3 separate regions of the Homo sapiens genome follow, and regions 2 and 3 are each linked to region 1. Evidence: fine-mapped expression QTL. A gene starts in region 1. Each other region holds a variant in brackets. All regions are shown on one strand. Distances are from middle to middle. Region 1 holds the start of VPS50 (VPS50 subunit of EARP/GARPII complex). Region 2 overlaps VPS50 (VPS50 subunit of EARP/GARPII complex). Region 3 holds the start of TFPI2 (tissue factor pathway inhibitor 2).

What was found. PIP is the estimated chance that this variant, and not a neighbour inherited with it, causes the effect.
Region 2: its variant is fine-mapped to the expression of VPS50 in whole blood (TOPMed, PIP above 0.99). The same link has a PIP of 0.9 or more in blood mononuclear cells, cerebellum, lung, sun-exposed skin, thyroid and tibial nerve.
Region 3: its variant is fine-mapped to the expression of VPS50 in monocytes (BLUEPRINT, PIP 0.95).

What each region holds. Positions count from the first base shown.
Region 1 is chr7:93,227,297-93,238,207 of GRCh38, reverse strand. VPS50 (VPS50 subunit of EARP/GARPII complex) reads right to left here and starts at 5,842. Exons shown (of 28, transcript NM_017667.4): 1 at 5,708-5,842. The coding sequence starts at 5,740. It also overlaps a transcript of HEPACAM2 not described here. RefSeq lists enhancers at 5,322-5,381, 5,622-5,671, 5,762-5,931, 6,072-6,141.
Region 2 is chr7:93,303,714-93,314,624 of GRCh38, reverse strand. It overlaps VPS50 (VPS50 subunit of EARP/GARPII complex), which reads right to left. Exons shown (of 28, transcript NM_017667.4): 18 at 8,621-8,797; 19 at 5,683-5,801; 20 at 3,353-3,459. Among named protein-coding and RNA genes, the nearest start is that of VPS50, 77 kb to the right of the region's middle. The variant T/C (reference allele first, on the strand shown) is at 5,821.
Region 3 is chr7:93,886,281-93,897,191 of GRCh38, reverse strand. It overlaps TFPI2 (tissue factor pathway inhibitor 2), which reads left to right and starts at 6,439. Exons shown (of 5, transcript NM_006528.4): 1 at 6,439-6,601; 2 at 6,873-7,055; 3 at 7,969-8,157; 4 at 9,761-9,931; 5 at 10,296-10,911. The coding sequence starts at 6,514. The coding sequence ends at 10,372. It overlaps TFPI2-DT (TFPI2 divergent transcript), which reads right to left and starts at 6,298. Exons shown (of 2, transcript NR_134235.1): 1 at 6,113-6,298; 2 at 3,604-3,950. The variant C/A (reference allele first, on the strand shown) is at 6,496.

The DNA of each region.
Region 1 (10,911 bases):
TTCTCACCAACAGTCATGAGGGAATAGCATCAAAACTGGTAAAGAAGGCAAGGCTGAGTTACCAAACTACACTTCTATATACATTATATATGCACACATGAAAGTAAAACTTCCCAATTTGATTCAAAATCATGACCACCCCTAAAATATATTTTTAAAATGTAATTGCCATGTCTTTTAAACAAACATTTTTCAAAGTACACATGCTCCTCGACTTACAATTGGGTTATGTTCCAATAAACCCATCATATGAGAACATATGGAAACATACAGAAGAAAACAGACACTGAGACTGCCTGAGGGTAGAGGGTAGGAGGAGAGAGAGGATCAGGAAAATAACTATTGGGTACCAGGCTTAATACTTGGGTGACAAAATAATCTGTACAACAAACCCCTGTGACACGAGTTTACCTATAGAACAAACTTGCATAGGTACCCTTGAACTAAAAATAAAAAAAATTTTTAAACCCATTATAAGTGGAAAATACATTTAATAATCTCAATAAAACCATCATAAACTCAAAAATTCATTAAGTGAAACCATAGTAAATCGGGGACCATCTGTATAGATTTGCTTAACTAATCTAACAGAAATCCCTGAAGAAATATATCATATTTAATTTCTCTTTCCCCAGAGCTAGTCCGTAAAGAAACCAATGCCTGAAATGTAAACGTGATATATACCAATATCTAGAAAAAGTAGTCACCACACAACAATTCAATACCAATACACGGCAAATTTCTGCCAAATGTACAAAATAAAAGTAATACAAATTGAAAACCCGTGTACATGTTAGGAGGATGTAGAGTGAAGTGATTATAGCAATGGGCTCTGGAGCAGACCACTTGAGTTTGTATCCTGACTTTCTTGCTGTGGTTTTGAACAACTTATCTATCCTTTCTGTGCATTATATTCTATGATCATTCATAGGCTATTATAAGAAGTAAAACAGGCCGGGCGTGGTGGCTCACGCCTGTAATCCCAGCACTTTGGGAGGCCGAGGCGGGCGGATCACGAGGTCAGGAGATGGAGACTATCCTGGCTAACACAGTGAAACCCCGTCTCTACTAAAAATACAAAAAAAAAAAATTAGCCGGGCGTGGTGGCGGGCGTCTGTAGTCCCAGCTACTTGAGAGGCTGAGGCAGGCGAATGGCATGAACCCGGGAGGCGGAGCTTGCAGTGAGCCGAGATCGCTCCACTGCACTCCAGCCTGGGCGACAGAGTGAGACTGTCTCGAAAAAAAAAAAAAAAAAAAAAAAAAAAAAAAAGAAGTAAAAGAGGTCATGTATGTGAGAAGCCAAAAATACTGTCTCATATATCTCAAGCATTCTGTGATGATTAACCATAATTCTTAATATTTTTATTATGACAGAAATGCTTTCCTTTTATCAAAACAGAAATGAAGAATTACATAAATGTCTCAAAGCACATCTGACATTCAACTGTACTTTAGAATTACAGATTTTTAACACTTTATCAGTTTTATAAACTTCTACTAACAAATGAAGTCATTCTTATTTTATCTTCATCTCTCTAAAGCATGAAGTCATGGTTTTAACTACAGTTCTCTGCCTTTATTAACACTTTGATGCTATCATTAACCACTATTTGATTTTCTTTTGTATTTGATGTTTGTGTTGATAATTCCCCAGTTTAGACATATAGAAAATTCAGCATAAATTAACACTCGCCTCTTCATTTACCCAAATCAGATTAACACTTCAGACTACTTCAGTTATGTCTACATTAATCCTCATTTTCCATTTACGAAACCAGCAACTATGTCTTATCCATCCAAAGAAGCATCTGTGATGATTTGTGTTTCCTTCTCCTTTCGGCAAAACTCAAGAGTGTTTACACCCAGTCCCTAATTTCTCTCCCCCTATTTTCTCCTGAACCCACTCTAATCAGGCTTTCCTCCCCACAACTTCATGAAAACTGCTGTAGTTGGGGCACCAAGGACCTCCACGCTGCTCAATCCAAAAGCACATTTCTCATTCTCACTCTCACCTTACTTGACCAATCTGCAGCATTTAACACAGCTAATCACTCCTTACTCTTTTAAATTCTTTACTTGGCTTCAAGGCAGTCTTCTTGGTTGTTCTCTTCATCCCACATTCATGCAACAAATATTTATTGAGCATCTGCTATATTCCAGGTGCCATTCAGGAAGCTAAAGACTTCTTACCTCACAAGCTGCATGTTCTCATTCTGCTTTCCTAGATCCACCACTTCCCCCTGAGTTTTTAACACTGGATTCTCAAAAGCTCCAACCTTAGATTCTTTGTATATCTACACTCATTCCACTGGTGATCTTAACCAGTTTATATGCAATCTACATGTTTGTAACTCCCAGAGTTTCAGCTATACCCTGGATTCGCCCCATAAATTCAGATTCATCTGGCCAACTGCCTGCTGTATCTCTCCAGTTGAATATTTAAGAGGCTTTCAAATTAACAAGTCCAAAAACCATGTCCCTTCCCTCAATCTGTTCCTCCCTCAGTTTTATCCATCCGAGGAAATGGCAATTACATTCTTCCAATTGCTAGGGCCAAACTATTTTGAGTCATCCTTGATGCTTCTCTTTCCCTCACAGCCCAAACCCAATCTGTCAGGAAATTCTGTCACCTCTACATTTACAGCATATTCACAGTCTGACCTCTTTCAACACTTCCACCACTAGGGTGGAAGGCTTACACCCACCCTCTCACCTGGATTACCACAGTAGCCTCATCATTCACCTCCCCTGGTTTTGCTCTTTTCCGCTCTTCAATCTGTTCTTAAAACATGGGTCCAAATGGTCTGTCTGAAGTGTTATGTCCAATTATATCATTCCTCTATTTGCCATTTCACTCAGAATGAAAGCCATGACCTTGCTATTACCTATAAGGTACTACATGATCTAGCTTCCTGCCTTCAGTCATCTAACCTCATCCTAACCTCATCTCCCACTACTCTTCTCCTCACTCACTTCACCCACACAGGCCACTTGCAATTTCTCAAACAAGCTCCTGCCTCAGGACCTCTGCATTTGCCTTTCCTTCCACTGGAAATGCTCCTTCCCAAATATCTACCTCACAGAGTTCACTTCCTCACCCCCTTCAGGTTTTTTTATATTACCTTCTCTGTGAGGCCTTCCGTGGCCATCCTATCTAAAATTATAAGTGACCTCAAATCACCAACAATTCCCAGGACTTTCTATCCTCTTTTCCTCTACAGTGTTTATCACCGTGTCTGCCTTAACACTTGTCTATTTTTTTTTTTTTACTTAGAATAGTACCTGGCACAAATTGCTCAATAAACATTTGTTGAATGGACTGAAAGAACAGAGGTGAGCATGATGGAGAAAGATGAAGAACAGATCTCATCTAAATAAAGAGAGCTAACAAAGCCTTCCTTCCTCCCATTATTTTGCAAACAAAGATCCCAGGACAGCTGAAATGTCCCAAAGCTTAAATTTCACAGACCTTAATTTCCTATCTCTCCATATTAACTCAATATATATTATTAGCACATTCTATAGGTTCAAAAAAAGAAATACTTTCATGTATACTTACTTGTAATCCTATTAAATTTAACCCAATAATAAACTGTACTAATTCAAACCCTCAATGTAAATAGCAGGCACACTAATTTCATACCTCATAGATTCAGGAACTGTGCATCAGTATCAAATATGTGAAAGTCAAGCCATAACATATATAATTAGGATAACTTTAAATATGTATGCAAAACTCCTAATTTTACCTCACTTTGTACACAGTATGGTTCCAGCTTTTTGTATGTGTTCTTTAATGTATTTTTTTCCATTTCAATTAAACACAGGTTTGACCTGCTGAAATTCAATAAGCAACTGACTAAGGCTTAAGTGTTACCATTTTCAGCACAATTGCATTACATTTAGGAGACATACACTTATCACTGCTATCTGAAATTTTTTTCTCTCCTCAGTTTTACAAAATGAGGTCAAAAAAACTAAACCAACCACAGCTACCATACAATTATGACAACGTTAACTACACTGAACTGTATGGCAGGCAACAAACTTGAGACAGCATCAAACAGCTGATGCACAAAAGTCCAAATTCAGCATTCCAAAGGCAGTTTAGAGGTATTAGTGATATAAAGTACAAAAGTATATATTGATTTAAAAATCAAACAGGTACCGAAGTCAGCATGAACTTATCTATTGCTTGAATTACTGCAACAGCCTGCTTCCAATTTTCCTGCTTTCCCACCATCAACATAGCCAATGTAACTAACGGTCTCTGCGTTCAAGCACTTCCTTGATAATGCCCAGGAACTCCGTTAACGCCTTAAACTCTTTAACTTCATTATATCATGTAAACACCACTATCAGGCTAACTCCATAAGGCACACATTATTCCTATTTTAAAGATGTGGAAATAGATGCTTAAAAACGTTATGTAACTTGCCGAAAGTCACACAGCTGCCACAGGATACAGCAGGACCCAAACTCATCGTCAAGTAAGAAGTAGTAGGACGCACAACACCAGTACTCAACACATGTGAGGAATTAACAAATGTTACTAGCCACTTACTTAAATATTTTTATTATTCACAGAACATTTTGATTATATTTTCATAACATTAACAAAATGCTCTGACATAACTAAAATAATCATGTAAGGGTCATTTGTGCATTGTGCAAGAGAAATACACAATTTGTATCCTGTTTATATATCTCTCAAATTGTGAATTCTCAAATAAGAATGTGGAATTTGAGTTATTTTTGTAATCAACAAGAAAAAAACTCACAAATATACCTTTCACTAAACGATTACCTTCCACATTCTCCAAACTTCTAAAAGCCATGTTGATTTAAAACTCTAATCTTAACTATCTTTCATATTAAAATAATAAAATGACCAATTCTAGTGAAATATTAAAGCTGAAGTAAATAAAGGCAGCTAAAACAAAGTCATAATCAATAAGTACATAAAAGAAAATTTCTGCACTTCTTAAATGAAGCTGAGGCATTATTACGAGGTCCCTAACATTTATGAGACAGGTTACAAAATAGCCAAAGCTCTTATTCATGAATTTCCATTCTGGGGAAAAAAAAGAAAAGATCAGTATTTTGCCATGACAAAAATAAATTTTTTAAAGCAGAATTTCACAAAGAGTTTTCACATATATTAGCTTATCGATGACCCTCATAACAGAACTGTGAAGTAAAATGAACAAAAATAATTATTTTCACATCCAGAAACGTAAGCTACAAAGTTTGGGGACTTGCCCAAAATCCAAAAGCTACTAATTCTGTCTTCAAATCATCCGTTTTCAGTCTTTCCAGGTCACCTCTACTGCACAGACCACACCACCCTACCCAGGCTATCAGCTCGCATATGACAGACAGCCTGGATGCGGAAGACCTTGCAAGGAAGCTCGGGCTGTTCTGGAAAGACGGCAAAAAGAGGAGGAGGGGAGACAAAGATACCCTGATTCCTTCAATGACTTATTTTTAAACGAATATTTCTGGGAGGCTGGTACCCGCTGGAGCAGTGCTCCAACCCAGGCGGCCCAGGTGAGTTTTCTAGGGTATGCCCCGGCTTCCCAGTCCCCCTGACACCTGCCACCACCCATAACTTAGATCCCCGCCCGCCACTGGTTGGGGACAGAACATCTCGGCTCCTCTCACTTCCGAGATGAAGGAAGCCTTTGCTTCAGCCGCCGCGACTTACCTGTCGGGTCATGAGAGATTTGATTTTTTGCATATCGAAATCCTGAGGAGGGTACCCTGCCTCAAAGAGCTAACAAATCACACCGAGCCACTACACAGCTGGCCCTGACACTAGGAAGCCATAGTGGGTGGTCACGTGGAGGAGCCGACCCAGGGTATCCTGTCTTTCCCTGGGCCTGCTGGGAACTGTAGTCTTCTGGACGCCGGCGGTAGCAACGATGAACTAAAGTGGCCAACCCAGGGACTACATCTCCCAGCAAGCAAAAGAGCGGGTGCTTCAGTTAAGCCGGTAAATATTACTGCTCAGAGCGACCACTGCGATCGCCGGTCTTACAAAGGTGCTTGCACTAGGCAGTAGCTACTCTTCGGCGAGACGGAAACCTAAGTCACAGGTGACTAGGCGTTGAGCGAAAGATCAAACTCAGAGGAGACAATATATAAGCCAGATTGACGCGATGTCCCCTAGGAGTGTGAGGGAGGAAACCTCACCTGGTCTAGAGGGGCGGGGTGGGAGAACGAGAGACTGACGCGAAGGAGAAGGAACTCAAGAAAGGGCTGTCACTGAGGGGTAACCTGAGAACTCGAGACTACCCCGGGCGCGCTGGGTTTGGCCTGAGGAAAGGTGTGCTCTAGGTTGCCCAATAGGCGGCCCTCCAGGTTTAGGGCTGTTCTACCTCAGTCTTGGTATCCCCTGCAAAAGCTCTAAAATCGAAGGATTTTGACGCCCGCCTATTATTTTACCTCCGTACTCTAAAGCAGTGATGACGGGAAATACGACAATAACGAGTATACCTGTCACTTTAAAGTCCTCTTTTCAACTTTTGGCAGTTTAGTTAAATTGGGGAAAGGAACAGAAGTGTCTTTGGGGACACAATTTTAAAAGGACTTTACAATTATGAGAATATGAGAAGAAGAAGAAAAAGCAGCCCTAAAGCTAACAATGATAGCTAACACTTATCGAAAGCCGAGTACCTGTCAGGAACTGCTAATAGCTTTAAATATATGATTTCATTTATCCACACAAGAATCCTGTGGGTTCCCATTTTAAAGATGACGAAGCAGGTATGGCGAAATTAAGGAACTTGCCTAAGATTACTGCAGATGTGCAAGTAGAAACTGAAGGATTAATCGGTCATCAGATGTGTTAAGATTTTCATGTATTGTGCTGAAGAAAGTTCTAAAGCATGGCACCAATTTTTTTAAGTTTATTTTATTATAATGTTAACTTCTAAAAGTATGACACAGACCCATAATTTCAAAAATATTTCTTAGAATAAAAAAAGTTCAAGTGTGTCAACGTAATAAAAAATACTAGGTAAACAATAGTATGGGTGGTAGTCAGATATGGCAAAACTAATAAAGGTGATTTGCAAATGACTGAAGTTTGGGGGACACTAACAGAGGTTATTTCTGATTCTGAAATTCTATTTTCTCACCCCTTAGAGCCTCGTTTTATTAATTTTTACAAATGAGGTTGTAATATTTTAATATTTTATATAGGGCTTTGTAAGGATAAGTGAGATGATGTAGGTGAATGAAATGTATAAATTGTAAAGCACTATACAATTATGAGGTATTATTGGTTTTGATTCTGCCCAGTTCTCTACTCCAACAGAACCACCTTGTGCATACTTGTATCATCACTGCGTTCAGCAATTCCTTTGAAATTATATGTTTACCTATATGCTTCTCTGACTCTGTTATTTCTAACCCCTTCAAGAAATTCTGGTCACATTTAGGGCAAGTCTAGTTTAGTTTATTCTTTACCTTCTCTAATCTTAATTGTCAGACTGTTCTTTGTGTGTGAAAATCTGCAATATTTAGAAGTCCCTGAAAGCATCAAAAGAAACAAAAACTGCCAGCCATATTAGCCTATAAAATAAAACCCAAGTCAATAAACATTTCTTGATTGTTGCGCTCAAGGCAACACTAAAATAAGCACTTTGATTAATAATCTATGGTTGTGGTCACAAGGAGTTCACAACTGGGTTTAAAAGCATATCTTAGGGGTGATCTGAGTTCAGTAGATCTCAAACCTGACTGTTCAGATTCACCTGAGGTGTGTGCTGTTATTATTGTTGTTTTCTTTGGGGATGTTTGTTTGTTTAAAATCTTCAGTGATTCTTAAAGGCAGTCCAGCTCTAGCATGTCAAATCCATGCTGTAAAGATGAGAAAACGTATCTGTATAAGGGTTCGAGACCACATATTTCATGAGAGCTTGATCTAGGACTAGAACCCAGATTCAACCCCGGAATTTTCTCCCTCACATACTCAAATACACAAAGTTAAAGATGATCCCCCCAAAAAGTTTTTTTTATCTAATATGTGTATTTCTATTGGCCAAATTCAGAAAAATGAGTGTTATCCCTATCTATTCGACACTGAAAACGCAAGAAAGTATTGAAACTTTGTTTTACTCCAAAACTCTACATTTTAGTTTATTTCCTACAAACTGGAGAAATGGATAAAAATGGATACAGTCTTCTAAATGTTTTAAGGCTATAACTATAATATTGAAAGCTTGTAAAGTAAATCAGCGCTGGTGTCTAAATAAACTATATTTTCTAATTCAGCATACCTTAACACTATATGAAATAATTGAACCTTACGTTATTCATTTCTATCTGTCTACGCTCAAAAAAACAAAAAACTTGGCATCCTAACAAACACTTTTTAAAAGGTTGGACATGCTGCTATTTCCTTTCCAATTTTCAAAAAGGTATTTATTTTTAAGATTTATTCAGGACTTTCACATTTACCTGAGAGCTGTTGTTAGTGATAGTCCAGTGCAAAATAATGGAAAGTTTAGATGGTCTGCCACCAAATCCTGGGGAAGGTTGGCTGGATACCAATTCCTTGGTAAAGGAGTGCAGAGCCAAGAGTTAAGTAAATTGATCTGATTCAGAACAATAGGATTAGTAGTAAAGTAGGATAAGGGCATATTACTAATGGCCCAAAACAGGAGGAATGTCTGGAAGCTTAAATAAAAGCTGAGATCCTGGTTTGATTAGAAAGATAAAATTTCTTACCACTCCACAAATACCAAAGCAGTGGAGAGATGCAGCCCCTCCAAGATGATATGACTACACTTCTTGAGCAGGCCATAACAGAAAACAGAACACTTGCCAAAGGTAAAGTAGTGACCTAAAGAGGTGCCCAGGAAGAAGACATTACTGCTTAGTATTTAGCAGCCATATAAGATAGATCAAGGCTTCCACGAGGCAGCTTTGTAGACTTTACAGAAGTGAACACTAGCACAGGCATAGGCATATGTGATAGCCTCCTCTGGCAGCTAACTCTCCCTGTAAACTGGAGAGAATCCACTAATTACAACAATAAGAAACATTTCTTTCCCCAGTTCTTATTCCCCACTGTTCTGCATCTACATTGACCTTGGCATTTCACCACCTCTCCTTAATTGTTTCTGCCACTGCAAAACATGCGTGTGCTAGCTACTTGTGATTAAAAATGTGGATGTTTGAAATGCATGCAGCAGACATTTACTGTATGAAGTAATACCAGTCTGCAATTTAAATAAACTAGATTGTAAACTGTGTAGTGTGATTTGAGAGGTAATAAAAATCCCTGCCCCCAACAAACATACACACACATACACACACACACACACACACACACCCTCCTGCACAGGAGTATATGTGTCCATATCCCATTGTAAATGCACGTGGACACACACACGCATACTCTATCCCAGTGGCTCCTTACATTGCTTGCAGTTTAATCACCGTGGATATAGATTGTTTTAGGTTAATCAGCCTTCTCATTTTAAATGCAAATATAACTAAGATTGGTAAACAGTAACACTACAGGCCCTTTTTTCCTGACTGGAATGATAACAGCAGAACTTCCCAGTGGGTTACAGGTGTGATGTGAGATATGGATGGTAGGAAAATTCTTATAATTATAAAACCTTCAAACTATTTTTAAGAATCATGTAAAAATTAACAATTGTTGAAGTTAAGCTTGAGCACTCTTTTTCTCACTTCCTGTGTAAACATGTTGAAATCAGAAGTTACTCCAGCAGGTAAGAGTTTATATCTACAGTTTACCACTAGAGGGCGCTTTGTCATGATTATCCCAGTAGCCCTTTCCCTAGATGTGCCGTATTATATTTCAATATGTGCCATGAAATAAAAAGATTACAAGTAAGATTCATATGGCATTTATTTTTTAATGTAGCATCTACTATCACCTTATGTCATGAAACAGGGAATATTTTCAAATACAACAAAGAAAATCTCAGAATAAAAAACTCCTTTATATTGAGTATATTTAACACTAGGGAAAAACACAGTACATTGTCTTTATTTCTCTTTTTGCCAGGGACCCAACAAACTTCATTATAATCCAGCACTAGATTGAAAAACACTGAAAACAGCTAATTTGATAACGGCAATTGGAGATTAATATCAATCTAAAAGATGTTGGGGGAACCTATGTGATATCTGTAGAACTTCCATATTACTTTCCAAATTGTATTTTGTGCAATCCAATATTAAAATTTATTTGTATTTCTTACGCATCAACTGAGAATCGTAAGACGGGCCAAGGAGCACTTAGAGTTTTGTTTTCTGGAGAAACAACTTAACAAAAATACCAGTTAAGCATTATGCTACGTGCCCAACATCCATGAATGAATAAGATTATTCTCTGTATTCGAGAGCTCAGAGGGAAAATAAACATCCAATAAAATAAAGATTAAGGAGATAAGTGCTGCAATAGATGTGTGTACCAGATTTAGAGACAGTGCAGAGAAAGTTGTGGCATTGTTATTATTTTGCAGGGAGGTGGGGGAAGCATGAGGAGCTCTTGCCATTTTTCTGAAGCATGGAGGGATCTGAAAGTGACTGATCTCTGAAGAGGACTTCGTTTTCCCAATAGTCACTTACTTTCTTTGCTTATAGAAGTCCTTCTAGAAGAGTTCAGAGCCCTAATGCAAAGAGTGTTTCCAAACTTGGATTCCAAAGTTACTATCATTCCTTTTTTACTTTAATTATGCTTGAGGTATAGTCTTCCTTCCCCTCTTATCATTGAACTTCTTCAGTGGGCCTTTACTGTTAAAACTGATGCATGCAAGGAATTTTCCTTGATTTGATGATTTGATGCAGATTTGGATATATCCTTAACATTTTATATAACAAGGCTAGAACCAGAGCCTTCTTGCAAATAGGGGTTAACTAATAACT
Region 2 (10,911 bases), 76 kb before region 1:
GCATGGACTTCGGTAATCTAGCTCCTGCTCCTCAGACCTATCACACCTGCTCACAAGCTGCTTCCAGGAGAGAGAACCGTGAATACCAAGGCTATTTCACTGATGAGACACATTTCCTAAAATTTCTCTTTCACTGTCTGCAAGAAACCATCAGGATGACAGAATTTTCTCTTTATATAATACAAGCAACTGTTCTGATCAGTCCTCTCCACTAGTGCAAAGCCTCCCTGAGCCTTTCTAATAAATTTAGTTACCACCTGGGGTAAGGAAGCCCCATTAACACTCTTTTGTTTACGCTCTGCTAATTATCTGCCAAGTAAATACTACTTGAAAAGGACATTTTAAATATGCCTTTAATGTTCTAATATGGTTTCCCAAATACTCAATAATTAGTTCCTTCATCTTCTCAAGCACCAAAAATTAATCTGTCTTATTTACACAACCGTACTTCTCCCTTTGTAGGAAGAAGCATGACCTCTGCCAGTTTATAATCTTCAGGCACTTCTATGCAATAACAACAGCGGATGGAATAGTGCATTTGCTAGTCAGAGGCCTCTGAGACAGTGGCTTCCTTAAAGTTCTGTTTTGTATATATCTAAAAACTGAAGATAAAAACATCCCAGGGAGAGAGAAAATGATAGGCATAAAAGTCTACTGGGGATCCCAACTGGGGTGATAATGGCAGCACCTAATCCCAGTCCTAAATGAGAAGATATAAAAGTTAAATTGTCATACTCGGCATTGTTTCCTAATTGCAAGTCCAGTAAAAGATATGGTAGTGGAGAAAGCTGAAATTGCAATAGTCAAATTCTCTTCACAGAGTAAGGCTTTATTCAGGACTGTGCCATACTTTACTTTACTTTAAAGGGTCTTGAATGTGGCTTTTCTCAGTTCCTACAAACCCACTGTTCAAAAGCAAGGCCCACTATGTTGATCAGTAATCCTCATACAAAAATTTGTTGTTACTAACATCTGAATTCAGCACCAGGAACATATTTCTACCATTATTATAAAGGCCTGTATCTTTTTCTCAGATAACGAGGATAGTGGTATATATTGTTTCTTCAATTCCCTTATGCCTACCAAGAAGTTAAGCATTGTATTTGATGTCTGCATTAAATATGATATGATAAAGCATGATGTGCCCACTCTTCAACTTTGTCTTAGCCTTGTATTTTATTTTATTTGATTATAATGAAAATATGCCTTCAGCGTAAACAGCAACATGACTACCTCCAGCCCCTTTTGAACTAGGTAAGGTAAAAAATATAAACAACTGCTTAGATGTGTTTGATTATATTATTTTTCCCAATTCCCTGTAAGAGCAATATACAGCCCTGCCCACTTCCCTTGACTTGCAGTGCTTCCTGCGGCAGAAGCATACTTCTCCCCTCCCTTTGCCAAGCCTGACTTGCTTTGGCCATGACATGTCAGAGGAAGTCAAGGGTGACACATGGAAGCAGAAGCTTCAGGAGTCATAACATAGTTTGCTTTTGCTCTTCTCCCCATGTTCCAGATTGGTTGGTACTATTCTTTCAACCTACATCTTAGAATGAAGAGACACACGGAGCAGAGCTGCATATAAACAGGAGACAATGCGTATCACGAGTGAAAAATAAAACTTTGTGGTTGAACGTCTTGATGCACCAACAGTTGCTTGTTACTTCAACATAATCTAGCAAAAGCTGACTACATCTCAAGGAATGTGTTCGGACATTGAAAACTGCTGAGTCTAGAAGGCTAAGGAGGATGACAATGATTCTGAAAGGTCTGAATTTCTATCAGTGAGGACAAGATAAAGGAACTGAGCCCATGGAGCCTGAAAAATGGATTGTGGGGTGGTCGGTATGAGAAAAGGAAGCACGATAACTACCACCACATATCTGAAAAGTGATCACATGGAAGAATAGAAGAATTAGAAGAAATGGAAGATAGAGGAAATAGAAGAATAGAAGAAATAGAAGATAGAAGAAATAGAAGAATAGAAGAAATAGAAGAAAAAAATGCACGAACTTATTCTTCTTGCTTCTAAGGGCATAACTCTTAGACCAAAAGGACAAACCAAAGGCTAGAATCACAGAGAGACAGGTTTTGGTTTACCTTAGGGAAGATACTTCTACTAATGAGATCAGTCTAATGATAGAATGAGTAGTCTTGCAAACCACTGTGTTTCCAATGACTGGGAGTCATGAAACAGAAGCTAGACAGCTACCATGTATGAGAGACATTACAGAAAGACAACCGACTTCATGGCAACTTACACCAATGACCACTCAGCACTCTCCCAATTCTGATTCTACAAATTCTCGAGAGTTATTTCTGACACTATGTTCAGTCAGTTCTCTTGGAAGAAGAAGAAAAGCTTAGCTCCCTGGCAATAATTAGCCACAGAATAGCTTTTTAGAATCTATCCTTTTTTCTGAGCATCATGAAAAGGTATACCTTTCTGTTCTTCTCAATTCAGTAATATTTTTTGCTCTTTCTAGAGAAACCGTGACTCCTAAAAAGCATTCTGTACATTTTATCCTATTCATTAATTAAATTTAAGAATTATCTTAAAGAACACAGACTATTTCAACAGAGCTAAGGTTAATCAAACTAGGCAATAGGTAAATACCATCTCCATAGATAGAATATAGAGATTTTTATGGAAAACCACTAAAATTCCTGCTTGGAACAATGAAGTTTAATAGGAGAAGACATCTCTATAACTTATTTGTCAAATACATAGACTTATTTGTGAGATACAAAGGCTAAAAGCATACAAGATGTTGAAATACTGATTTTAAAAAAATCCACATCATCCTAAAACCTGAATATTTAAAATATCATTTCTTCATATTGTTTGCCTTCTACAAAATCATCAATAAAGGTCTTATCTGTTACAAAAACAACATTTCCTATAATCTGAACATTTAGCTTGTAAATCCCTTGTGTCTGAAAATGCCAGAAAGTCACTATTCACTCTGCCTGACAGAAGATGGTAAAGACCTATGAAACAACTAAGTACAAAAATATTGTATAAATGTGAAACTGGTACTAACTTATCTTACACATACCTCTAACCTACCTAGAGAATTTTTCATCGCATTTCAATTAACTGAAATATTTTAGAAAAATTGTAAGATACAAAGACTTAATAAACAGGTAACTGAAAAAGAAAAACTGGCATTACTATTAGTATTATAGTATTTGGAACATTTAAAATGAGAAGCATTGACATATGATAACCTTAAATCCCTCATTGCATAGAGCACTGGAGTATACAAGACAATAAAAACCACAAGTAAAAGTCATTCGGTAACAAACTAATTTAACTGTTATAATTTTTTTTAAAGGTGTAGCTACTTACCAACAAGTCTTATGACGTTCAATGTTGTATTTGTTAAGATAGGTGCATTCACTTTATTTAGACTGTAATCTGATTTCTTCCTGCTTTTTAGAGTTTCCCGAGAAACACTTGATATGGAAAAACAAAACAGAGTTGCTAGAGTTGTCAAGTAATAAACCAATAAGTTAGTCAGATAGGTCCCTAGCCTTTATTAACTAATTATTTAATGAAAATCTTACTATGCATTAGGTAAAGATATAGAAATTAACTTCTTATAAAATTTACAATCCATAAGGGAAATAAGTAAGCAAAAAAATAAAGTACCATAATGCATTTCTTCGATTATAAAACATTATCAACCACTAAAAAAGCTACATCTCTTTAAAAAACTGATTTTCCAGGATAATAATACATCTAGGTGCAAATGTACTGTTTCTTGATTTCAGAAACTTATGAAAAAATACCCTCCTAAGAACGTGAATTAAGTACAGAATATTGATGGCAGTATTTGGGGTTACGGGGCAGCATAAGGTTCAAAAGAAAAGTAAAAGCTATATGGTCAGCACAGAAAAAAGGGCCGGCATAAAATAGGGTCAGAGATAAGAGAGAACAGAGTGCGCTCAGAAAAGTACAAGGAGTTCACCACGTTCGCATGTAGAAGAAGTGAACAGAGGGAAAAGTGACAAGAAAGGAGGCAAGTAAAGGCCAGATATCTCTGAAAGCAATCAAACCTGAGGGATATGAACCTTATCTTGAACACAGTGGTGAGTCACTAAAAGCTAAGCAGAAAAACAGCATGATTAAATTTGTAACTATGAAAAAAAAAACCCCTAAATTTAGATCTAAGAGTTGTTTGGAATGGGGCAAGCCTAGAGACAAGAATCCAAGGTAAAGGAGTTGATTTAATAATCTGGCACAGAGATAACTTTGGCATAAACTAGAATGGTAGTGGTAAAATACAAGAAAAATTGGTCAATTCAAGAGACACAAGTTAGAACTGATAATATCTATTAATTTATTGGCTTCAGTTACTAATTTGTTCAATTCAAACTTCTTAAGGGTAAAAAGTTTAGGGGGCTCCAGTAACCCTACCAAAAATGGAGGTATATACACATGTACTGGCAGACACTATCTTACTTGTACATTTCAATTCAAATAGACCTTTCCTTTTGGCCAAAATATTCCCAAAACACATCTAATAAAGAATTCCAACAAAATAGTTCTATTCAGTTCACAGTAGATCATGCTGACACTTAATATCATACATACGCAAAAACCAATAGAACAAATTTTTTCAATTAAAATAGCTACAACTACGTGAATTGCTCACTTTTGAAAACAGAATTATTTCAGTCGAGATTTCAAGTTAAACAGTATTAAATAGGTAGCTTAGGGTTAAACGATAAGAATATACTTATCATTAAGAATCTATCATTAAGAAATCTATCATTAAGCAAAAAGTATATCTATAGTCACTAAATGTATGATAGTCATGAAATCAAGTCATTTTAACATTCCAGAATCAGGCCCATTTAACTGGCAAAAGGTAAGAAAAAATTCTCTTATAATTATCATAGTTTTGAAGAGGTCAGTTTATCATAAAACAAAACTCAACCACTAATAGGACACCTTGATAGAAGGTTCAAATAGTGAACAAAAATGACATAGGGGAAATAAGTGGCGACTTTCTGTGTTTATAAGATTGAAGCAAGAACTCCACATACAAAACAAATGACCATTTTCTCCTTGAGGATTTTTATTTATCTATGTAAAGCATAAATGGCCACCAAAGGCAGGATTGATTTTATAAATCTAAAGGCTTTTTCCTCTGCAAAAACTAATCTCTTTGATTATGCCCAATATTTTCAACAAGATAATAAAGTAATTTTAACAGATTTAAACAAATCACTAACTTTGTGATACCATAAAAAAGGAACTAGAATCTTGCTACAAAAAGCAATGTCAAACAAACTGTATAACTCAAAGGAAAGCTACATTAACACTAGCCACTTAAAAGTTTTTAAATGGCTAAATCAATTTCTTTTTTGACACATTAACAATCCAGTTCACAGTTAGATGAACTGATCTGTGAGATACCAGCAAAGGTTTTGCAAGGCAGAACTTTTCATATAACTATTTTAGTTTTCCTGAAATTCAGTTATGAAATGTTAAGAGGAACAACACATTTTTAGCCTTCCAGGAATCATTTTTTAAAACATACTAACTTCTGTCAGGTGACATTATAAGTACCAAAAAAAATAATTTTTGTTTCTTCTTAACCTTAAAGGAAATCCTATATGTTAAGAGCACAAGATAAAATGCTAAATACCACACAATTTAAGAACAATCACCTTTTCACAGGACCATCTCCTGTCTGCTCATCCACATAGTCTCGTTTGAGTTCCTCAGGAACATCACTGTCACTGTCATACTCTTGATAGGCACTCTTTTCTTGTTCATCAGATTCATACTGAAGAAAACACAGGTTA[T/C]TAAAAAATGAGTATAAAGGGCCTCTTTTCGTGGGGTGTCTCAACACAGTGAAAGTACTCAGTTTTATAAGAAACAGCTAAATACAAGAAAATTCTTAATTTAGCTTTAATGTTGTCACCAAGAATCTAATTATTCTTCCATTGTCTTCATCATTCTACCTCAATCAGCACAAAAGAAAAATATTACACCTATAAAAGCTTGAAAATGTGCAACAAAATCAAATCGCCATAAACCAAAACCTAACAAACATTCCACTAGGCCTAAAGAGTATACATTCGCATTTTTTTTTCTTAAAGTCTCTCAGAAGTTTCACCATACTTATTTCCAATTTGCTAATAAAACTCATTAAAAAGAGGTTCAGTATCCAATTCTGGCATTCTGGAAGTATTACTTCAGCTTAATAAACACATGCAACACACATGCTGATGTTCTAATTCACTATAAAATTTAATTCCGAGGGCAGCTTAGAAAATTAAGCTTAGAACACAGGGACCTGCTGAGAATGAGGACAAAAATGGTGGATTTACTCTTGAGACAAAGGGTGTCTTCCTAACATTTTCATCATCTTTATGGCACCATGGCCCAATGCCAGCATGGGAAAGACAGTGGAATTCATGCACACAGTAAAGGAAGCAGTGACAGCACTTTCATCATCATCATCATCATCATCATCATCATCATCATCTATTAATGTCATAGATTAATACGATTAAATGGCTAACATTAATATCATTAAGTAATAGCTAACACTGAGTTTTTAACCAAGTATTATGCTAAGTGCTTTCATGAATTATCTCATTTAATCATACAGACACTTCTATGAGGAAGTTTTATCTCCACATGACAGTTGAGGAAACCAGTATGATAACAACATGGAAAGAATTTAGCCCCCTAATTCAACAACTATTTTTTGAGAGTCTGTTAATAAAAAGCACTATGAAAGGTCGTATTTAAATGTGGACCCTGATTCTCAAGGACATAAGTTGCACCTGGAAAGATCAGATCACACATTAATAACTGCAAACAAGCCTTACAGGTACTCCTTTATACTTATACACAATGTGATCCTGATGCTATGCAGAAAGGTATTCTACATAAACTAGGATGTCCTGATTACAACAACAGAGGTTTGTGACCACACCGTATCATAGATACTCATTATTTGAGGATTCAATGTTTGCAAATTTGCCTACTCACTGAAATTTATTTGTAACCCTAAAGTCAATACTTCTGATATTTTTGGAGTCAGTCATAAACGTGCAGAACAGTGAAAACTTTGAGTCATCCAACATGCATGTTCCCAGCTGAATACAAACAAGGCATGCTCTGCCTTCTTGCTTAGGCTCTCATACTATAAACAAGTTTCCTTTTCTTGACCTATTTAGTGCCAAGTGCTTTGTATTTTTGTGCTTTTTGTTGGTGATTTAACTGTTTAGAATGCCACTGCAAGTGTTGCGTTGAAGTGCTGTCTAGTGTTTCTAAGTACAAGAAGGCTGTGATGTGCCTGAGAAACAAAATATGTGTGTCTGATAAGCTTCATTTAGGCAAGAGTTACAGCGTTGTTGGCTATGAATTCAGATTATGTACTGATGGGCTGATAAACATGTCGTAACCCGAGGCTCACAGGAACCTAATCCTATATTTGCTCTGGGAGTAATGGTTCAGTATTTGCTAATTTAGTATTCACAGCAACTTTATAGAACACACTGCTGCAAATAATGAGAATCAAATGCTATCTAAGTTTTAATTAATGAATCACTTTTATAGAGAGATATATTATTCCAAAATAATTGGAATGACTTTAAATTCCTCTCGGTTAAGCCAACTTCACAGAGGCAAAATGTCACAAAGAATCACTGAATCATAATTTTAAATATGGCTTACTATGAAACAATTTAAACTTAATGAATTTTGTCTTCACCAAATGAAAAATAAATTCTAAAACTAACATAAAATATAAAGACAAATCCTTCAACATATTTTGTCACATCTGAATGGTTTTCACTTTAGCTTCATCAAATCAAAAATAAAAATCATATTGGGTCATTATGGAAATTATGAAGATCAGAAGAAACCATCAAACAAAATATTAAGTCAAGTAAAATACTGTGAAAACACCATGCAGGAACTGTGAAGCAAGCATTCCTCTCCCTGTAAATATGGAGAAACTGAGGGTCACAAAGTTAAAATAATTTGCCAAGGGCCACACAGCTGATAAATAATAAAGATGATATTCATTATTTGCCTTCAAATCCTTTCCACTAACTCACACTACGTCTAGTTAATATTGTTTTTGAGGTCCTCAAAGTGTTGTTAAAACATTGTACTTCTAAATCTCAAAAAATATCCCTGCCAGGCAACTATGCAAGACATTACCACTTTCTCTTAGATAAAGGGACATGGAACAAAATGAATCAGTGACCCATAAAGGGTGTCGAGAAAAAGGGTAGATGATATCTATTCCGTCATCTCACAATATATCACATAATATTCACATAATATATCACGTAAATATTCAGTGAAGAAATTACACTACTACTTGATTAGCAACCTGATAAGAACATCATGTAATAAGAACATAAAGCAAACATAAAGGGAAAATTTACTATTCAAGAGGACAAGGTCAACAAAGCATATTGTAAAGTCATCATCTATAAATGTAATAGCATAGGTACATTAAGTATACAGGCAGGCAGGGTGGTAGTAAATGGATACGTAAATGTAGTGAATTGCCTTGTTCATTGAGTAGAACAGTTTTAAATAAAAAAAACTCACTTATGTTTCACATACACCACATACCCCATTAGAAGCTAAGACATCTTCTGTTTCTTCATCTTTGTGGTTGGCCTGAATTTCAAATGGATTCCCACCACTACAGTACTGCTCAAACAAGGTCACTGTTTTTGAAGAAGTTGAGACTGGCTGTTTACTAGGTGAAACTGATGGGGAGCGAGACTGTTCCATGAATTTAAATTCCTAGATGTTAAAAAAGGAGCCAGATACCCTTTAGCAACAATAAAATTCTAGTACATAAACCGAATCCCTCAATATACATGTAGAGTTAGTAGAAAAACAACATCTTGATCTTCAGTTTATTGACTTTTAAATCTTTCAAGTTATCTAAAAGCACAAACTTGGAAATACACATCTAAAGGTTTTCCTAAAGACAACTCAGTGAATGGTATCACTTAAAACAGTATCATCTGCATCAAGCTACTTTTGGCTTCCTTTAAGAAACTGCAGAGATCATTTTTTAAAATAGCTTAAGAAATCTGAATGATGTCTTCTAAAAATTTTAACAGAACAGCAAAAATCCTAATCAATAAAGTCATTTATGAAAACTAATTGTTAAACACTTCTCTTTTTCATATGCTTGCACCACTTAAGATATTCTGTACAAATACATCAGAAATAAAGTATGAAGTACATATCTGTGTTACATTGACGCCTACAAACTTTCATTTACTTTTCGCTATATACCAAGAAACAGACAACACAAACATATATGCCAAAGTCATATGATGTGTCTTCTACTCCTAGCTAAGCTAAAGAGTTGTAAGACCCAGTCTAAGTCATGCATTAACCACATGAGGAAACTGAGGCAGTCTGAAGGGATTCAGTGCAAAGTTCAACATCACACAGCTAATTAGAGGAAAAGTTGGAATAATCTCTAAAGTTCCTTTGAATTACAAAAATCTTGATTTAATGATTTATCACAAAATTTAACAAACATTTTTCTTTTATCTAAACAGAATAATCCCAAATTTAAATTTATTCATTTTCAATGATATTCTTCAAAGGTATTCTTAAAATTCTTGAAAGGTACATTGGCTTGTTGTATTAAATGATATATGTGTTTATTTTCCTTTTGCATTTCAACTATACATTTAATCATATATATTATAATGCCTAAGAATCATGCCATTATTTTTATAATTCTAAATAAGGAGTGAATATACATCAATGAGACTAATTTTTAGAAAATCAAATCCACATGAATGCATGTCAGGTGAACACTAAGCTGTGAATAGTTTTCAAGGTAACTACTTTAAAGGAGATAATGTTCACCTAGATGGGAATGCTTCAACATGCCTTTTTTAAAAAACATGTCTTACAATTATACTAAGTTTGACAACGTGACAGCACACACACACAGTCTGATGGTTAAAAAGGAGTTCAAATAAAATTATTTAATAGATATTCTAAAATTTATGTTAAACTTAGAATTCTAAATGATGTTAAGGAATTACCTTAAATCTTTGAGAATTCTTAAATCCTATGTTAATTTAATGTTAATGCTTATGTTAATACTAATTAACATTAACATTAATTTTGCTGTCTTTAAAGCATTTATTAATTGCTATGTTCCAGGGTTTTTAATATTTCTATAATAGGAAAACAATATAATAAAACTGGATAAGAAGCTATTATACAATATGAGCATAAAGACAATCCCTATCAAAAAAAAACTTGTAATTATGTATTCTTTACATTTATCCAGAATAAGAAAATTGCTTTCTAGAAAGCCACTCCTTCCAAAGGCAGAAACTAAACACACCATACTTTCTGAACAAGGATCTAACTATATGCACTGCATTTTGACACTTGATATTTCCAGAACACAATCTTTCACACAAGAATATTTATCTACAATGTGTTTCAACCAAGGGAAAAATCAAACCAATTAAAGACTTTTTCAAAGACTGCTTATTCTGTAAGTATTCCAGGAATTGATTAACTAATACAAATTAGTTAAGAGTATTTTTTATAAGTGCCTCTTTTATTTCTGAGGCATTTTTTCATTACAGGCAAATTTAAGAATTGCAGCACAAATTAGGAACCTACTAGTCCCTTTAAGAAATGAAAAATATTCTACAAATATAAATAAGCATTTGTATTAAACTATGCCAAAATATAGCTAATTGATTATCTGCAAAACTTAAATACAGCAGTCACCCTTTTCTGAATTCAAAACAAACAAAAAATATCATTTTAACTGTAACTCTTTTTAGGCAAAAGAGATTTCCTAAAGTATGTAAACTGAATTTTGTAAGACTGATTTTTCGCAACCATAAAAGGATCATTCCTTT
Region 3 (10,911 bases), 660 kb before region 1:
ACATAGTGAGAGTCCTAGGAGATGTGTGTTCCTTTCAAACTTCAGCTATTGCCTCTTCCTGCCCCAACTGGCAGATTGTCCCTCATGTGTGATTTAAGATACAAAAGCTTTTCAACGTAAGCCAGAAAAAATGAGCATTTGGAGAGCATATGGCACTGCAGTAATCAATGTATAACTAACACGAGATTTTGGCCACTTTATAAAAAGACAATATATTTGAAAGAAAATGTGTCTTTACATTTGAAAGGTCAAGGTCCATTACTTTCTGCTAAATATAACCGTGAAAATGAGGACTTTAGTGATTAAATTTCTCAATCCTCTAATCTGATTATCAGTTTTGGCAGCTGTTCTTCTTAGAGCATTATGGCAATGTATTTAAATTGTAGCTATCTGTTTGCCCTATGAATGAATTATGAACTTTATGTTTGCATAGAAAAGAAAACTGATACAGCGTTGTCCAGGTACTGAACCAGGGTCATGAAAGTATATATAATAAGCTTGACTTTGGCCTCTGTTAATGTGGAAAAAAAGACTGTGTATACAGTCAGTGAGACCAGGGGATCAGGATTTAGACTGCCTGTGCTAACTGAATAGCTTTGGGAAAGTCATATATCTATCAAAAGTTTCAGCTTTCTCATTGCAGAGTAGGGAGAGTAACATATCTCCCTCAAGTCGTTATTGTGCGGGATTTAATGAGCTAATAAATTCAAGGCATAATGCAAACTTTCACTGTTATGTCCACTAGTATTGTGATTGCCAAGGAGATTTCCACATGATATACAGGGATTAGGGGAACATTCCTCTTCCTTTCTCCACTCTTGATGTGCCAGAGGCTTAGTAACCAAGGCTAGAATTTTGGCTAGGTGGTGAGGCAGCACTGAGTTGGGAGGTCTCGGATAAAAATCATCTAAAATTTGCCATAATCTTCTGGATGCCATACACAGTTAAAGATGTAGCAATCTGAGTGAGAGAAAAGATGGTCTGCATCGCAAGTAGACATAATGACACTTGAGGGAATGTACATCCAGGAAGTAGAGAAAAGTGGTTTCTGAGATTCTGCTCCTCTAGCAGAAGGCAATACTTTGTTACAACCACAGCACCTAAAATAGCCAACCAAAACAAATAGATGAAGGAATGAGTCTCTGTATTGCATAGGCCTAGAAGATATAGTGTCAGGTATGTTTGCATAGAGTGGATTTTATTTGGAATTGAGCTTTGCCTACCTTTTATTTACTTCCTCCTCTATAATCCTATACAACCTAGTACATATTTTTGATGTTGTACTAAGAACATTGTAATGTAACTGGGTTATACAGTGTTCATTCATCTACCCTATTATGTTATGAGGTCCCTCATATTTGTATCCCAAATGTCTAGCATAAAGTTTGTCACACTTCAAACATTTAATCAGCTCCCTTTAAAGTAGATTAATGAAGGAATGAACACAGTAAGAGATACGTTATATACCCTCATTATCTCTTTCTTTCTAGGGGGAAGGGGATTCATAAAATTAGGCACAGAGGATACCCCATCCTTTCATGTGGCTTCATCTTATTATATAGCACTCTCAAATGCACTCTGTGCCTGACAGAGGGTGCATTAGAATAAATGTTTCTTACATGGCCCAGCTGGTTAGAAAAATACCTAGTTGGTGAAGGAGTTGCTTAAACTTTAGCAAAACCCTCATGACCATTTACTGCTCAGAAGAGATTAACTATCTTTCTTAGCAGATGTGTAAACTCATTAGTGCCAGCTGGACTCATTTCAAGTTTTATTTTGGCAGGGCTTAAACTAAGAGGCAGCAAAAACTGTCTTTGTTTATTAAGGAGTTATCAGTGTAACTCCTTAAATACCTATGTTACATAATATGTATCCCCAAATCACTGGGCTCAATTAATTCTCATCATTCACTCATAAGCCAGACATGCTACCTCTCTCTAAGGTGTCTGAGAGAGAGGAAGACCATCTGCCACAGTCCATTTCTTAAATTCTTGGTTCACCTACCGAGACGGCAGGGCTCTCAGAGGATACAGTATCATACTCAAGGCATGGGAGGGGCTAAACAGGTCAAAATCAACTTCATTTGTTGTGGGGTCCAGGGGTGTGGTGGTGAGAAAGATCAGAGGCAGCAATCTGACACATGCAGAGGCGCTCCTGGACTCACTGCAGCTTTTGCATTTTTAAATTCTGGTATTTCATATTCTGCTTTAAGGTCTTGGTATGGTAGAAAGAACTTAGGTCTAGGTGTGATAGAAAGAATATAGGACTAAGAATCCAGAACTGTGGATTCTAGTCTCAGGTCTGCCAACAACCATGGCAGGTAAACATGACCAGATGCTTAACCTTTCTAGATCTCAGTTCACACTTGTGTAAAGTGAACATACTTATAGTTCCATTCAGCATTCAAATTACAACTCCATGCCTTATTTTTACAGAACTCCAGACTATTTTGAGCCTTTGTCTTTAGCCACAGACAATTTAACTGTCAATTGGTGTAGCAATGACAAATCAATCTGGATGACTGTTTTTCCCAGTTATCTCTAGCCTTGCACTTCCTGTTGACTTTGGACAAAGGAATTACTTTCCTCAGCCTTGAGGCAGCATTTTGGGCTAGACACTGGATTAAGGAGATAGAAGTGCTATGACATCCCTTTGGAGGCTGATTGTGGTGGTCATGTTGCTCCTTCCAAAATATTCTAAATGTAAATTCAGTAACGTCAAAGTAGTCTCCAGGAAATTCAGATTACCCTTATATTGGAAGATGTCTTTTTCATGGATATAAAAATACTCAATTATTTATGCAATTAAGAGGAATACTTTTTTTGTAATAACCTGGGTTAGTAATCTCAAACTTCTGCCAATTCCACTTCTTTAATTCTCCTTTCTCCATCTGTGGTCATAGAGGTTTTAAGGATGCACCCTGTTTGGCATAGAAAAGTAGAAGGAAACCAGCATTTCTAGAGCATCTCTCGGGACTGATTCCAACCTGCATCTACAGACCACACCACAGAAGGGTGAGAGGCCTGTTTTTGCCCCCCTCCCATTTCCACTACATGCCTTATACAGCAGCCCTGAGTGGGCTGAGGATTCTGCTCTGAAATCCCCTTGAAGCTCATTTCCCTAGAAGAGACTACCAGAAAGTGTGACAACTTCATGGGCAGAGAGGTGGTCTCTGAGCTTAGTTAAGAGAAGAGCTGACAGGAGCAAGGACATGGGCTTTAATTCTATAAGGCCATTTCATGTTGCTCTGTTTCCTGATGGGAGTTTGATGCTCCATCTCAAAATTGTGTGCCAAGGCTCTCAATGGGAAGTAGGATATGGGATGATCTGGATGAAGTTTGTGCCATTGTGTGAGGGGCTAAAACAATATCTTTGAATGCATAGGCATTTTCCATTTAATCCTCATAACACATCTGCGAGGTAGAGTTATTATGTCTATTAGAAAAGGAAACTGAGGCTCAGAGAGTTTTAAGTAACTTGTCCAATGTAGCAAGGAATAAAATCCAGGTATCCTCTGAATTCCAACTCTATTTTTCCATGGCACGATGCAATTTCCCAAAATGTCTGTCTTGATACAAAAGGGCTAATCTTTTTTTTTTTTTCTTTTTAGTCAGATTCAGAGTCTCACTCTGTCATCCAGGCTGGAGTGCTGTGGCACGACCATAGTTCACTGCAAATTCAAACTCCTGGGCTTAACCAATCCTTCCATCTCAACCTCCCATATAGCTGGGACTACAGGTGTACACAACCATGCCCAGCTAAGTTAAAATTTTTTTTTTTGTAAAGATGGAATCACACTATGTTGCCCAGGTTTGTCTCTGACTCCTGGCCTCAAGCGATCCTCCTGTCTCAGCCTCCCAAAGTGTTGGGATTACTAGCAGAAGCCATTGTGTCCAGTGGTTCATTTTTTTTTTTGTATGAGCGAAAGACAATCAAAAAGTGTCCAGCACCTGAGAACAAAGAGAAATGGCAGTAGTCAGTGCTCCATGAAAACTGAGTATCAGTCCTTGAATTTTATTTTAGTCTAAAGATATATTTAATTTTATTCAGAAGATAGATATAGGTAAGTTTGAAGTTGAGTCAACTTTTCTCCTGAATATGATTCTCGGTAAATGAGTGGTAAAATTCCCTCCCCTAATAATATTTTGAAGGAACTGGGAGGGTCTAATCTGACTTTACTCTGAATGTGTCATTCCAAAACTGGCTGTCTGTCTCAGTGGTTGGTGCATTAGAGCCAGCTCACACAGATTTTGGCCATGGGGAGCTCTGGCTCTTGGAGATCTTTTCCCACCTCGGCATTCAGTGATTCTGCAGTGGCAGCTTGAAATTGACCTTAGTGAGCACATTTACATCACAGAAATCAGTTAACTATACAAAGCATCCCCATCCCATTTATTTTTCCCTACTGGAGAGGTGATAATTAAACATTTATCCTTATAGTTTCAACTATCATTCTTAATCATAGACATCTGCTAATCAAAGCTGACAGCATTTCCAGATCAGGCTGGTTTTCCTAGGACTGTGACCTTGTAACATGACATCAGAATGACTGAAAACTGGCACAAGGATATAATGTGCAAAATACCTCAGATTATTAACCCACTTTGAGCAAGTGTGTCCTATACTTTTCAGGGCTTCCTGAAAACTTGAAAGAGAACTTCTGTAAACTACCCCCAGTATCCTCAGAAGTCAAGAATAATTATTTACTTGAGAATGTTGAATACAACAAGAGAAAAGGGGAAGGGAAGACAAGTATATTAAAATGTCTTCAAAAATATCTTTAATATTTTATGTAAAATTTCACTGTAGGTAATTGTTTGTATTAAAAAAAAAAGTGGATCACAAGCTAATATGTCAAAGGAACAGGGAACTTTAATGGATGCACTGACATTAGGAAATGTGTGGGAATACACTGATCTGGTCAAATCTTCAGAACTCCCCAAGGCTATCTCTCTGGGCTGCTATGGTTCTTCTCCAAAAACATAGATACATACAAAAACATAGCTTCATACATGCTTGGTTGGGGTGTAAAATGGTACAATCATCTTGAAAAAATCCTTTGGCAGTGTCTAACATTTCTAAGTATTTTATCCAAGAGTAATAAAAATTGCAGGTCCACACAAAGCAGCTTTTTTCATAAGAGCCCCCAAACAAACTAGAAACAACACAAATTCCAGTAATAAGACATTTGTGATATATTAGAATATTACTCAATGATTTAAAGGAACAGACTATTGATACACACAGCAACATATTTATACATTGTGGGATATTCATACGTTTTGGTAAATTCATACCTTGGACTACGCAGGAATTAAAAGAAACAGACTATTGATGCAGTGACCTGGGCGTATCTCAAAAACAGGAAGTGTGAGAAAGAAATACTACACAGTGAATACTTTATAATTCCGTTTATATGAAATTCAAGAATAGGCAAATCTAATCTATGGTAATCGAAATGAGAAGAGTGTTTGCCCCTGGCCTAAGGATGGAAGGATTGATTTAGGAAAAAGTCTGCAGGAGCTTTCTGGAGTGATGGAAATGTTCTAACTCTTTTTTTTTTCTTCTTCTTCTTCTTTTTCTTCGTTTCGAGACGGAGTTCCACTCTGCCGCCCAGACTGGAGTGCAGTGGCGCCATCTGGGCTCACTGCAGCCTCCGCCTCCTGGGTTCAAGCCATTCTCCTGCCTCAGCCTCCCGAGGGGCTGGGACTACAGGTGCCCGCCACCACGCCCGGCTAATTTTTTGTGTTTTTAATAGAGACGGGGTTTCGCCATGTTGGCCAGGCTAGTCTCGAACTCCTGATTTCAGGTGATCCACCCGCCTTGGCCTCCCAAAGTGCTGGGATTACAGGCGCGAGCTACCGCGCCCAGCCAAAATGTTCTAATTCTTTATTGGTGGCTACACAGTTGTCAAAATTTATCAAACTGTCCACCTACGATATATTATAAGCCTGTATTAAATGTAAATTAGAACTCGATTGAAATCTGTGTGTATAAATATAAATATACACTTATTTACATTTCTAATCTAATCTGAAGGTCCATTGCAACGAATCCCGCTCCGCTCTGACCCAAGAACTCCGCACTTTCTCTCCACCAGCCTTTCAAATACCTGAACTTCATGCCTTCAAGAGGTGGATTCCGGCTTCTTTACAGCGCAATCACTAGCAGGTCATTTCCGTCTAGCTTGCAGATTTCCCATTACTGACACAAACGCTCCCTCAGGGCGTCCCCGTCTGGACTACAGGAGAAAGTTTGGGAGGCAGGTTCAACTTTTCAACTTGGCGGGGAATTCCTCTCCCTCTTACACAGTTTGCAGCGCGGGGGCGGCGGGGTGACAGTCCCCGTGCATGAATCAGCCACCCCTCAGGCTCCGCCCCGGCGGGGGTCGGCCGGACGCTCGCCCCGCATAAAGCGGGCACCCGGGCCGCCTGGAGCAGAAAGCCGCGCACCTCCTCCCGCCAGGCGCTTTCTCGGACGCCTTGCCCAGCGGGC[C/A]GCCCGACCCCCTGCACCATGGACCCCGCTCGCCCCCTGGGGCTGTCGATTCTGCTGCTTTTCCTGACGGAGGCTGCACTGGGCGATGCTGCTCAGGAGCCAACAGGTATCTGGCCGCTCCAGGAGCTTCTCTCCCCAACCGGCGGAGAGGGCGCAGCGGGCCATGGGGCCCCGTGTAGGCGCCCTCCAAGCCTCGCTTTCTCCAGGTCCCTGCCGCGCGCTCCGCTGGCAGGGGGGACTCGCTCCCAAGTTTGCACTTTCTCTGCAGAGGCCCCTCCGCTCGGAAGGGGACAGAACTCCCCGGGATGTTCTTTCCTCCTAGGAGCTACGCCTGACCACTTTCCCTCTCTTTTGCTCTCCTTCTGCCCCTTCTTCAGGAAATAACGCGGAGATCTGTCTCCTGCCCCTAGACTACGGACCCTGCCGGGCCCTACTTCTCCGTTACTACTACGACAGGTACACGCAGAGCTGCCGCCAGTTCCTGTACGGGGGCTGCGAGGGCAACGCCAACAATTTCTACACCTGGGAGGCTTGCGACGATGCTTGCTGGAGGATAGAAAGTAAGTGCCCTGCGCGCACCCAGGACTCTCGCGCTCCTTGCGCCGGCGGCTGGTAGCAGCTTCGCCAGTTTCCCACGTCTCGCTTTCTACAGGAAGTTTTAGCCTGGGTTTTCTCAAGTGTTAAGCAAACCTCATGGTTTTCAGTTTCTTAAAAGTAATCACAAATTTACAACCACTAACACATTTCCTGTCTCCCAACTGACATTGATCATAATTCAGTGCCTGTGCGGACTCAGGGAAAGATTTGTTCCCTCACCATGGGGTATAATAAATGCAAGAGAATAACGTGTTAGGTACAACGTAAGTGCTTCTCTGTATTTTTCATTAATTCCAAACCTATGATTTTTATCTCTCCTGGAGTACATCATTTCCTTCTGTCGATTATCCATCAATCTGAAATATTTTTAGTGGATTTTATTATTGAAGTGTGACTTAGCTCATTATATAACTCTACTTTTGTCCCGATACCCAAACATGTGTTGGATTAGTTGCGGGACATGGTGGAGATTCATAATACTGTTATATTTTAATTTATTTTTAATTTTTAAATTATATCGGTTAAGGCCTGTAAGAGAACATGGGGCTTTTCCATTCAAGGAACTGAGCCAGGGGAAAATGCGTATTCATGTGAATAAGCTTTGATTCACTGCATATGTACAATCAGAGAACACCCAGAGAAAACAGAGAGTCTTTCTACTGAACTTGAAAGATACATCACAGCTGAGTCAGCTCTGAATACACTGTTAGAAAAAAAAAAAGTAAATATCTGGATTCATGGGAGTATTCTGGGTATTTACTATCCCAACACTAATACAACTTCTCTCCCCCCACAAAATGTTGCTGAAAATACAGTGATGGTTTAATAAGAAGGCTACTTTTGACTAACATTGTTCTATTACCCTCCTTTTCCTAGAAGTTCCCAAAGTTTGCCGGCTGCAAGTGAGTGTGGACGACCAGTGTGAGGGGTCCACAGAAAAGTATTTCTTTAATCTAAGTTCCATGACATGTGAAAAATTCTTTTCCGGTGGGTGTCACCGGAACCGGATTGAGAACAGGTTTCCAGATGAAGCTACTTGTATGGGCTTCTGCGCACCAAAGAAAAGTAAATACGATTTTTATGGTATTTCTATTTCACTTTTTTGAAAAGACATTTGGGTGGAAAAAACTCAATTTGATGCGAAATTAACATGTGCATTTTCATGATTTCACATTACTTGACAAGTTAGTGACTTGTCAAGTTCTTAGGACTGGAAAGTGACAAAGCCATGATTCAAATTTTTGCTTTCTGCCTCTTCTGATTTGTTGTTTTTGAGACGGACTCTCGCCCTGTTGCCCAGGCTGGAGTGCAGTGGCACAATCTCGGCTCTCTGCAACCTCTGCCTCCCGGGTTCAAGCGATTCTCCTGCCTCAGCCTCCTGAGTAGCTGGGACTACAGGCGCCCGCCACCATGCCCAGCTAATTTTTTTTTTTTTCTTCTTTCTCTTTCTCTTTCTTTCTCTCCTTCCTTCCTTTCTCTCCTTTCTTTTTCTCTTTCTTTCTTTCTTTCTCTTTCCTTCCTTCCTTCCTTCCTTCCTTCCTTCCTTCCTTCCTTCTTTCCTTCCTTCCTTCCTTCTTTCTTTCTTTTCTTTCTTTCTTTCTTTTTTCTTTCGACGGGGTGTCACCGTGTAAGCCAGGATGGTCTTGATCTCCTGACCTCATGATCTGCCCACCTCGGCCTCCCAAAATGCTGGGATTACAGGTGTAAGCCACCACGCCCAGCCCTGAATTGTTTCTTTAGAACTATTTCTCAGCTACTCAATTTATGCATAAAAGATTAAAGTATTCATTAATGAATGTTATGACCTCAGATTTGTACACAATAAGTTATACATGTGAGATAGTGGAATATATACAGAATTAAGATGGTGAAACTTGAAAATTTCTTTCTAAAGTTTTCGGTTAGATTTCTGTATTCTTCAGTAATTGCAAATTGCAGCACAAACATCTCCACACGTTTCTGTCCTATCCATTTGTTACCTCTCCCACCACCACCCCTGAATCCTTGAAATGATAGTCTCTTGAGTAGTATTTAATGTTTGCAGAGGGAGACAATACAGGCATTTCCCCCAGACACAGAGATTTTTGAAAAGTTCAACAAACAAGGAAAACTTGCTTTGGCAGAGAATTTGATAAAGCTTTATAGCTGTACTGTGTTGAATATGCAAAATCTTGAGTTAATGTGGTGATGGTTACTGTGGATGTTCTCTTGTTTGTGTACATATAAATGTTTGCTCCAGTGGTTACCTGGAAATTAGTATGCATATATTATTGATTAATAATGGAATGAGAGCTGTTAAAAACATTAAAGCAAAACTACCAACACGACAAAATTTACCAAATCATGCCACATATTGTCCTTGAAACTTACCCCATTTTTACCTAACCATATCTGGTATTTGGGTTTAACTTCTTTTTACATTTAAAGGATACAAAGATGTAGCTTCAGAAGAAATTCTATCCAGTTTACAAAAATTTAGAATTACCAAAATATAGCATGTAAGCTTACCTGCAATTTGAAGCACATCTTTTTAAAGGTTTAGTATGATATTTTGGATTCAGACTGAGGCTTCTATGGGATTAGATTTTCTTCAGTTACTTCAGTAATCACCATAATTTAAAAATTCTGGTATTATAACATTTCTAATTTTCTTCTCTTTTTTATAAAGTTCCATCATTTTGCTACAGTCCAAAAGATGAGGGACTGTGCTCTGCCAATGTGACTCGCTATTATTTTAATCCAAGATACAGAACCTGTGATGCTTTCACCTATACTGGCTGTGGAGGGAATGACAATAACTTTGTTAGCAGGGAGGATTGCAAACGTGCATGTGCAAAAGGTAGTGAATGTTTTCTTATTCCACCTTTAGATAAACTTTATAAATAACTTATCAGAAAAATTATATTTTTATTTATCCATTTTACTAATAGCAAATTGCTGTTTCTAGACTACTTCTACATAAGTATCTCCGTAGTGTTAATCAGTTTTGTCAAAATGCTTTTACTGGCTAGCTGCAGTAGACGGTAGCTGTATCTTCATATCTTAAAGGTAAAATATTATTAACTGAGTGTATAATGAGTTTTGACTTCACAGTCCTTAAAAATAAGATGAAGTGAGCTCAATAACCTTATCAGAAATAGTGATTTATAGTGAGCCTACAGACTGGAGATGTATGATTTTCATTGTCGTTTTATTGATTTTAGCTTTGAAAAAGAAAAAGAAGATGCCAAAGCTTCGCTTTGCCAGTAGAATCCGGAAAATTCGGAAGAAGCAATTTTAAACATTCTTAATATGTCATCTTGTTTGTCTTTATGGCTTATTTGCCTTTATGGTTGTATCTGAAGAATAATATGACAGCATGAGGAAACAAATCATTGGTGATTTATTCACCAGTTTTTATTAATACAAGTCACTTTTTAAAAAATTTGGATTTTTTTATATATAACTAGCTGCTATTCAAATGTGAGTCTACCATTTTTAATTTATGGTTCAACTGTTTGTGAGACTGAATTCTTGCAATGCATAAGATATAAAAGCAAATATGACTCACTCATTTCTTGGGGTCGTATTCCTGATTTCAGAAGAGGATCATAACTGAAACAACATAAGACAATATAATCATGTGCTTTTAACATATTTGAGAATAAAAAGGACTAGCAAATAAAACTCATTTTGCATTTAAAAGTTGGATTATATTTTAGTCCCAAGAAGACAAAGTCGCAGATTAACAACACTTTAAAAATATTACTCCCATTTTATTGTGTTAGATTGCAGTACAATGAATGAATAAGGGGATTTATTTAAAAGATCTTAACTTTC